Regions from separate parts of the Homo sapiens genome. Here region 1 is linked to region 2. Evidence: fine-mapped expression QTL. A gene starts in region 2. The other region holds a variant in brackets. All regions are shown on one strand. Distances are from middle to middle. Region 1 overlaps DMXL2 (Dmx like 2). Region 2 holds the start of TMOD2 (tropomodulin 2).

Evidence for each region. PIP is the estimated chance that this variant, and not a neighbour inherited with it, causes the effect. A credible set is the group of variants that fine-mapping cannot tell apart.
Region 1: its variant is the best candidate, but not a certain one, in a credible set for the expression of TMOD2 in whole blood (TOPMed, PIP 0.75).

The regions. Positions count from the first base shown.
Region 1 is chr15:51,617,008-51,619,921 of GRCh38, forward strand. All of the region lies in intron 1 of DMXL2 (Dmx like 2), which reads right to left. Among named protein-coding and RNA genes, the nearest start is that of DMXL2, 4.3 kb to the right of the region's middle. The variant A/G (reference allele first, on the strand shown) is at 1,671.
Region 2 is chr15:51,750,303-51,753,216 of GRCh38, forward strand. It overlaps TMOD2 (tropomodulin 2), which reads left to right and starts at 1,295. Exons shown (of 10, transcript NM_014548.4): 1 at 1,295-1,410. It also overlaps a transcript of LYSMD2 not described here. RefSeq lists an enhancer at 849-918 and silencers at 1,029-1,458, 1,509-1,618, 1,649-1,708.

The sequences.
Region 1 (2,914 bases), 130 kb before region 2:
TATTATATCCCATTTTAAGTACTGCCTTGGTTTCACAGAAGGAAATTAAATTGGTCAGGCATGACTTGTTTTTCTACTGTGCCATTATGGTTGTCACCCAACATCCTGTGCTCTTTCAGATAATTAAATACTGAGACTCTGATTTGTTCTAAAAATTTACCAAGATCCAAGTTAAGATAATCTGATTATAATTTCTAAAGTAATATTTTAAATAGCCCAAATCCTAAGAACAGAAACTAAAATAAAGGCATTGCACGGGAAAAGGAAAGCTGCGAAAGGAGAACCTAAACACCATCACACTGGTCCCATCTCCCACCCAATACTGTACTATGACAGTCGCAGGCAACTATCATCTGCCAGGTGCCAAGGACCAAAACCTAATCAAGAGGCTTCTCCTCAGCTGTAAGCCCAAAGACTCATTCCTAGACCCACTACTTCATAAATGCTCTGAATGGCCTATCTACTGAGCCAGAAAGGAGGTCAGACTCCCCGACTGTGAGGTCTGATCAAATCTTGTAAATACAAGTGAGATCTGATCAAGTCTTGTAAATACAAGTGAGAAGCAATATACGATAAAGACTCCAGACCTACAACTTCAACACAACCACTTTATGTTTCTAGTCCATTTTCTCTTTTGACCCCTGAAAATCTCTAGAGAAGTCCATATAATTTTCATTCGTGGTCTAAATACTTAAAGAATATCTTTAAGAACTTCTTTTACAGATCAAAGACCTAAACATGTTTAAGTGATTTCACCAACACCATACAAGTAGTTGGTCTCTGACCTCCCATTTTTGGGGAAGACATTATTCAGAACCTTACCAGAGTTTCTGAGTAGTTGCTAGGAGTCTTCTTGCTACAAGCAAGAAGGCTAATTAACAATCTACGCAGGGACATAAGAACTTATAAACCCTATATTCACTTACTGGTTGACACTAAGCCCAAGCCCACAAGGTTTTAAATGTATCCGTTTAAACAAACAAGAAGCTACACTCCAAGAACAAAAAGGCCAATTTCTCTTAGAAAACAAGTCCATTCTAAATTCTTGACTTCTGTCTTTCACTTTCCTCTCAGCACAGGTTAACACATTAATAACCAGCCAGTACAGAAGCATGTTTCTAACCAACCCCTTGATTCCCCTGGCCAAAAGTTCTCTTAGTCTTCCTGAATTCCCACTTAAATGCTGGTAATATTGCACAGCTGGCCTACTGTGGTTAGGTATGTGTCTTTTACTCTCGTATTAGACTACCAGGTTCCTACACTTCTTCAATAAACTCCCTGAAATCAAGACTATGTCTTGTAATTCTTTTTTTTTTTTTTTAATACCCACAAAGCTTAGCACACCTATGTGTTCAACATTTGCTAAATGTATAAACTGGTTGATCATTTTCAAGGTTTGGTGTTACCATAACTCTAGGACTGAAATTTTATTCTACAATAGAGTTAAGACATATCTAAATGCCATAAAAGAGGTTATACAACATTATTTTCTAATTTTTAAATGAATGGTTTTCCATTTATTTCCAACCTTTTGTTGGTATTTTAATTTAAAAAAAAAATTGAATGTCAGAATACCAGGTACGTTTTCCTGAAAAGCTACAGGTAATGTTTGCATATTATATTTTTTCAACATTCTAAGAGTGTCTGTTATTTAATGAAGAAGTCCTGTG[A/G]TTAAAAAGTAACTTTTGCAAAGAAAACAGTCACTCAATAATTTATCCTTCGTATTATGCCATTCCTTTGCTTCTGTTGTTCTTATCTTTCCAAACCTTACTCTTCCATAAAACCTCTTCTTGTTTTCCCAACTACAATCTCTTCCATCTGCCTTATGTTATAATTATATAAATCATTTTAATCTCTGCCAGTATATTATAAATTCCCTAAGAGTGCAAATGACTTACTAATTTTTGTAAACTTTGATCAATGTGTTGAAATCATGTCACACTGGAATAATAGTAACTGCCCCTATACATCTCAAAATAGTCTGCAAGCCTTAAGGCCAAATGAATTTTTAATTTAAAAAATCATCACGTATGATCATTATTTCAATTAATATTTTAATATGTGCAGTAAAGTTTAAAAAATAGCCAAGGACTATCTTTCAGAAAAGTAATAACATAAATAATGAGAAATTTACAATATCTGTTGCATAAACCCTCAAAACATTCACTGAAGGGTAGTAAGAAATGTCTTAAAGGCAAAATAAAGTATAATAAAGCTCATACACGGGAGAAGATCATCTCTTTGAACTACCAGAGATTTGACTTATTGCAGGATAACATTTCGAAAACCTAGATCTTACACTGAAAAGAACAAAATTGTTCAAAAGGTGATGTTTTAAAATGTGATATCTACAGCTACATTTACGAAATCACAATCGAATGTTTAAGGAAACAGCTGTATACTGCCTAAACACAAGTGAAAAGCATCATAGCTTACGTGATACCACTAAAACCACAGACATCAGCTGAGATTGTCCACTACAGACTGCAGTACCATGTCAATATTGCACAAATTGGGACATCACGACATCAAGTAGTCATTCACAGCCAACCAATCACGCCACCCACCATGCACAGCAAAATATATAACACACATTTCTTTCAATTATTACACTGTCATAAACTCAAAATCCTTTTAGAACAATTCTGTTCTTCAAAGATGTATCAATTTTAGACTCTGAAATAAAGTATGTATTGTATTTTGAAAAGGTTCTCAGGCTACCATGAAACACAACATCAGCTAAGAATCATGAGTTAGTTGCAAGACAGTAGTTCCTTCTACACTATGTCTGGGAGGCCTTCCATCCATCCACTAACCCACCTACGCACCCACACACCCTCTCCAGAGCAGGCACTCTGATATTAAGAAGGAAATACTACCAAGAAAAGCCCACACAATGAGAAGTCACAAGACC
Region 2 (2,914 bases):
CAGTGTTATCATTTTCAGATGTGGAATTTCCTCTGCAGCACGTTTTTTTGGCCACACGATTACTGCACACCTCGTGCCAGACAGACTATAAAGCTGTTTCACCTCTTTTCACATTTTGCCTAAAATTTCATATAGAGATTACACCAGCCATGCTGCATCCATCCCTTTGGTTCATTTTCCTCCACTACATCTGTGAATGCAAATCCCACCATCATGTGAAACACTGCATAGCAGCAACTTGCAAAACTCAACGAACCTTAGACTGCCAAGATAAGTCCCATAAGCAAAGGTTATGCTCAAAATATGCTGCAAAAGTTCAAGAAGGAGAGAGATATCACATCTAATTAGAAAAGGCCTCTGGAAGTTAAATCTAGATGCCATGTATTTTCATAATGTTGGTCTTTGTCCTATGTCACCCCACTCTGCTGTCATGCTTCAGAAACTTGACTTTATTTTCTCTATCTTTGGAGCTCTCAAGAACCTGGCAGACAGAACATCTCAGGGTATATTCAGGGATGAAGTGAACGGGCTCAACGACTAACAAACCCAGTGGATTTTAACATTTACCCAGCCCAACGAGGTCCAACTATCTTTAGGTTAGCACGACATATAGGACTTTCCCGGCCCAAGAACTCCCTCGGAAACCCCAAGGAAGGAACTTTCACTGAGTATGCACTAAGTGCCAGATCCTAAGTGCTATGGGTCGCTTAATCCTCACAACACTTTTTCAAGCTTGAAGCCTGTTTTACAGATGAGGACGCGAAGGCTCAGACAGGCTAAGTTGTCCGGTCTCACCTCAGTGAAGCCGCCACTGCGCTTGGGCTCTCCAGCCCCTCACGCCATCACCCTAGAGCCTTGCTAACTTCCACCTCGCTTACCTCCTTCCCTCCCTAGGCTGCCAACCCAACTACTCTCTCCTCCCACGCCCACGCCCAGCCAGGAAAACCTGGGGCGGGCGGGGTCTGTACCTGAGACCGCTCTCAACGCGGCTTCCGTGTCAGGATGCTCGCTCACAGGAATGCTCATCACAGGCTTGAAAGCCTTTGCCATCCACGCTCTCCGGAGCCCCGAGCGTCTCCAAAGAGCCTGCCCAGGCTTCTCCCCGACCCAGGTGCTTCCTCCCCTGCAGAGCTGTGGCGGGGTTCAGACCCCGATTCCGGGAGAGGACACCTGTCGGGGAAGGGCGGGGCTGGGGGACTGCGGGGCCGCGGCGAGGCTCAGCCGGGAACTACGCTTCCCAGCCTGCTCCGCTGCAGCCGCGCGCCCCGGCGCCGCGCCCGGCCGGGAGCCGCCTGTTGATCGCCGCGCTCGCCCCGGCCACGGCGCCGCCCCTGTTCTCCCGGCCCCGCTCCACCGGGGCTGACGGACTGACGGCCAGCACAGCCGGCTCCGGGATGAGCGCACGGACGGGTGAGCGCCCCGGGGGGCGGGTGGGGCCTGTTCTGGACAGCCGGTGTCTGCAGCCCCCGGGCCCGCAGCGCGGTGGCCGCCGTGCCCTCCCTGCCCGCGGGAGGATGCTCCGCGACATGGGCGGTCGGCCGGGCGGGCGTGCAGAGCCGGGCCGCCTCTCGCCTCTCGCCTCCCGGCCCGGTCGGCTGCGCCGGGAGACCAGGCGCTGCGCCCGGGCGGGAGGCGCCCGCCGGGGTGTGAGTCCCGCGCCCCGCACTGCGGTGCCGCAGCCTCTGCAGCCCGCTGGGCCGCAGCGGGGAGGGCGCGGTCTCCTGTCCTCCCGGGCTGCGGGGCTGTGTTCTTCCACTCCGGGCTTTGTTCCCCCACTTTTCCCCTTCCTGTGCATGTTTGGTGAGCTCCTGGAGCGGTATGCATCTCCCTGCCTCGTTCAGCAGGCGATGGGGAGGGGTGGACTGGCCGGCGTCTTTCCTGAGATCGCTGGAGCTGTCACTCGCAGGGCGTTTCAGCCTCCCAGTAAGCGGCCTCGTGCGGATCCTCGAGAACCTTATTATTATTGTTATTACTTTTCTGGTTAAAGTAATTGTAGTATGTGCTCCCTTGAGGCTTCCTAAATGTTCCCTGTTGACCTGCGGAAATGAAGGTGGATTTTTAAAACAGTAATAAAAGGCTTCTAATGGGAATTTTTAGAGTATTCAGAGGTAGGAAGGTGATGCCGTCACAATGCAAATTAGCAGTGAAGGAGGCCGTGCTTACTGCAGCTTCGTCTGTGCCCATTACATATCTGAATCACGAGGCATTTAGGACGGGAATGAAAAGAAGATCGGGGGAGGTGTTTTAAAAACCAGGTTCTCCTCTTAGCTTGACCATTCAGGAGCTGAGGGACCTGGGCAAGTCCCTCCACCTCTCTGGGCCTCTGCATGTAAAGGGGCGTTTGGGCTAAATGATTTGTAAACCTCTGTTCTTCCAAGATTCTCCCCTCTCAGGGAACTGAAAAGATGAGAGTGTTTCTGTTTAACAGCACTACAAAAAGCCTAATTGTGACAACAAGCGCCTCTACCCTAGTGAGGAGGAAAGATTTTTCAGAGCTTCAGCAATCTGATTTTTTTTTAAAGATAAAACTGATTTTCTCGATCGACTCTCTTCAGTCTAACCCAATAAATACGCATTGCAATCATTTTAATTTTTGTAAGGTACTGTACATTGGTGGGCAACAAAATGATGGGGTTTGTTTTTGTCTTTAATTTGCTGAAGGTGAAGTGATGGGATCAGCAGATAAAGGATTAGTGGCTCCCTAGGGCTGGGCACGAGTGGTCAAATGTGGTCAGCATGGAGGTCGGGGAGGAAGCCCCAGCAAGAAGTAACCAGAATGTGTATACACAGAAAAGAGAAGTTGCGTACTGATGGATCATTGTTTGAAAAAGAAATATGCAATAGAAGGAATGAGAGAATCAGGAACTCGGCGCTCTGCAAACCTAACATAACAGTTGAATAAGGCAAGGACTTA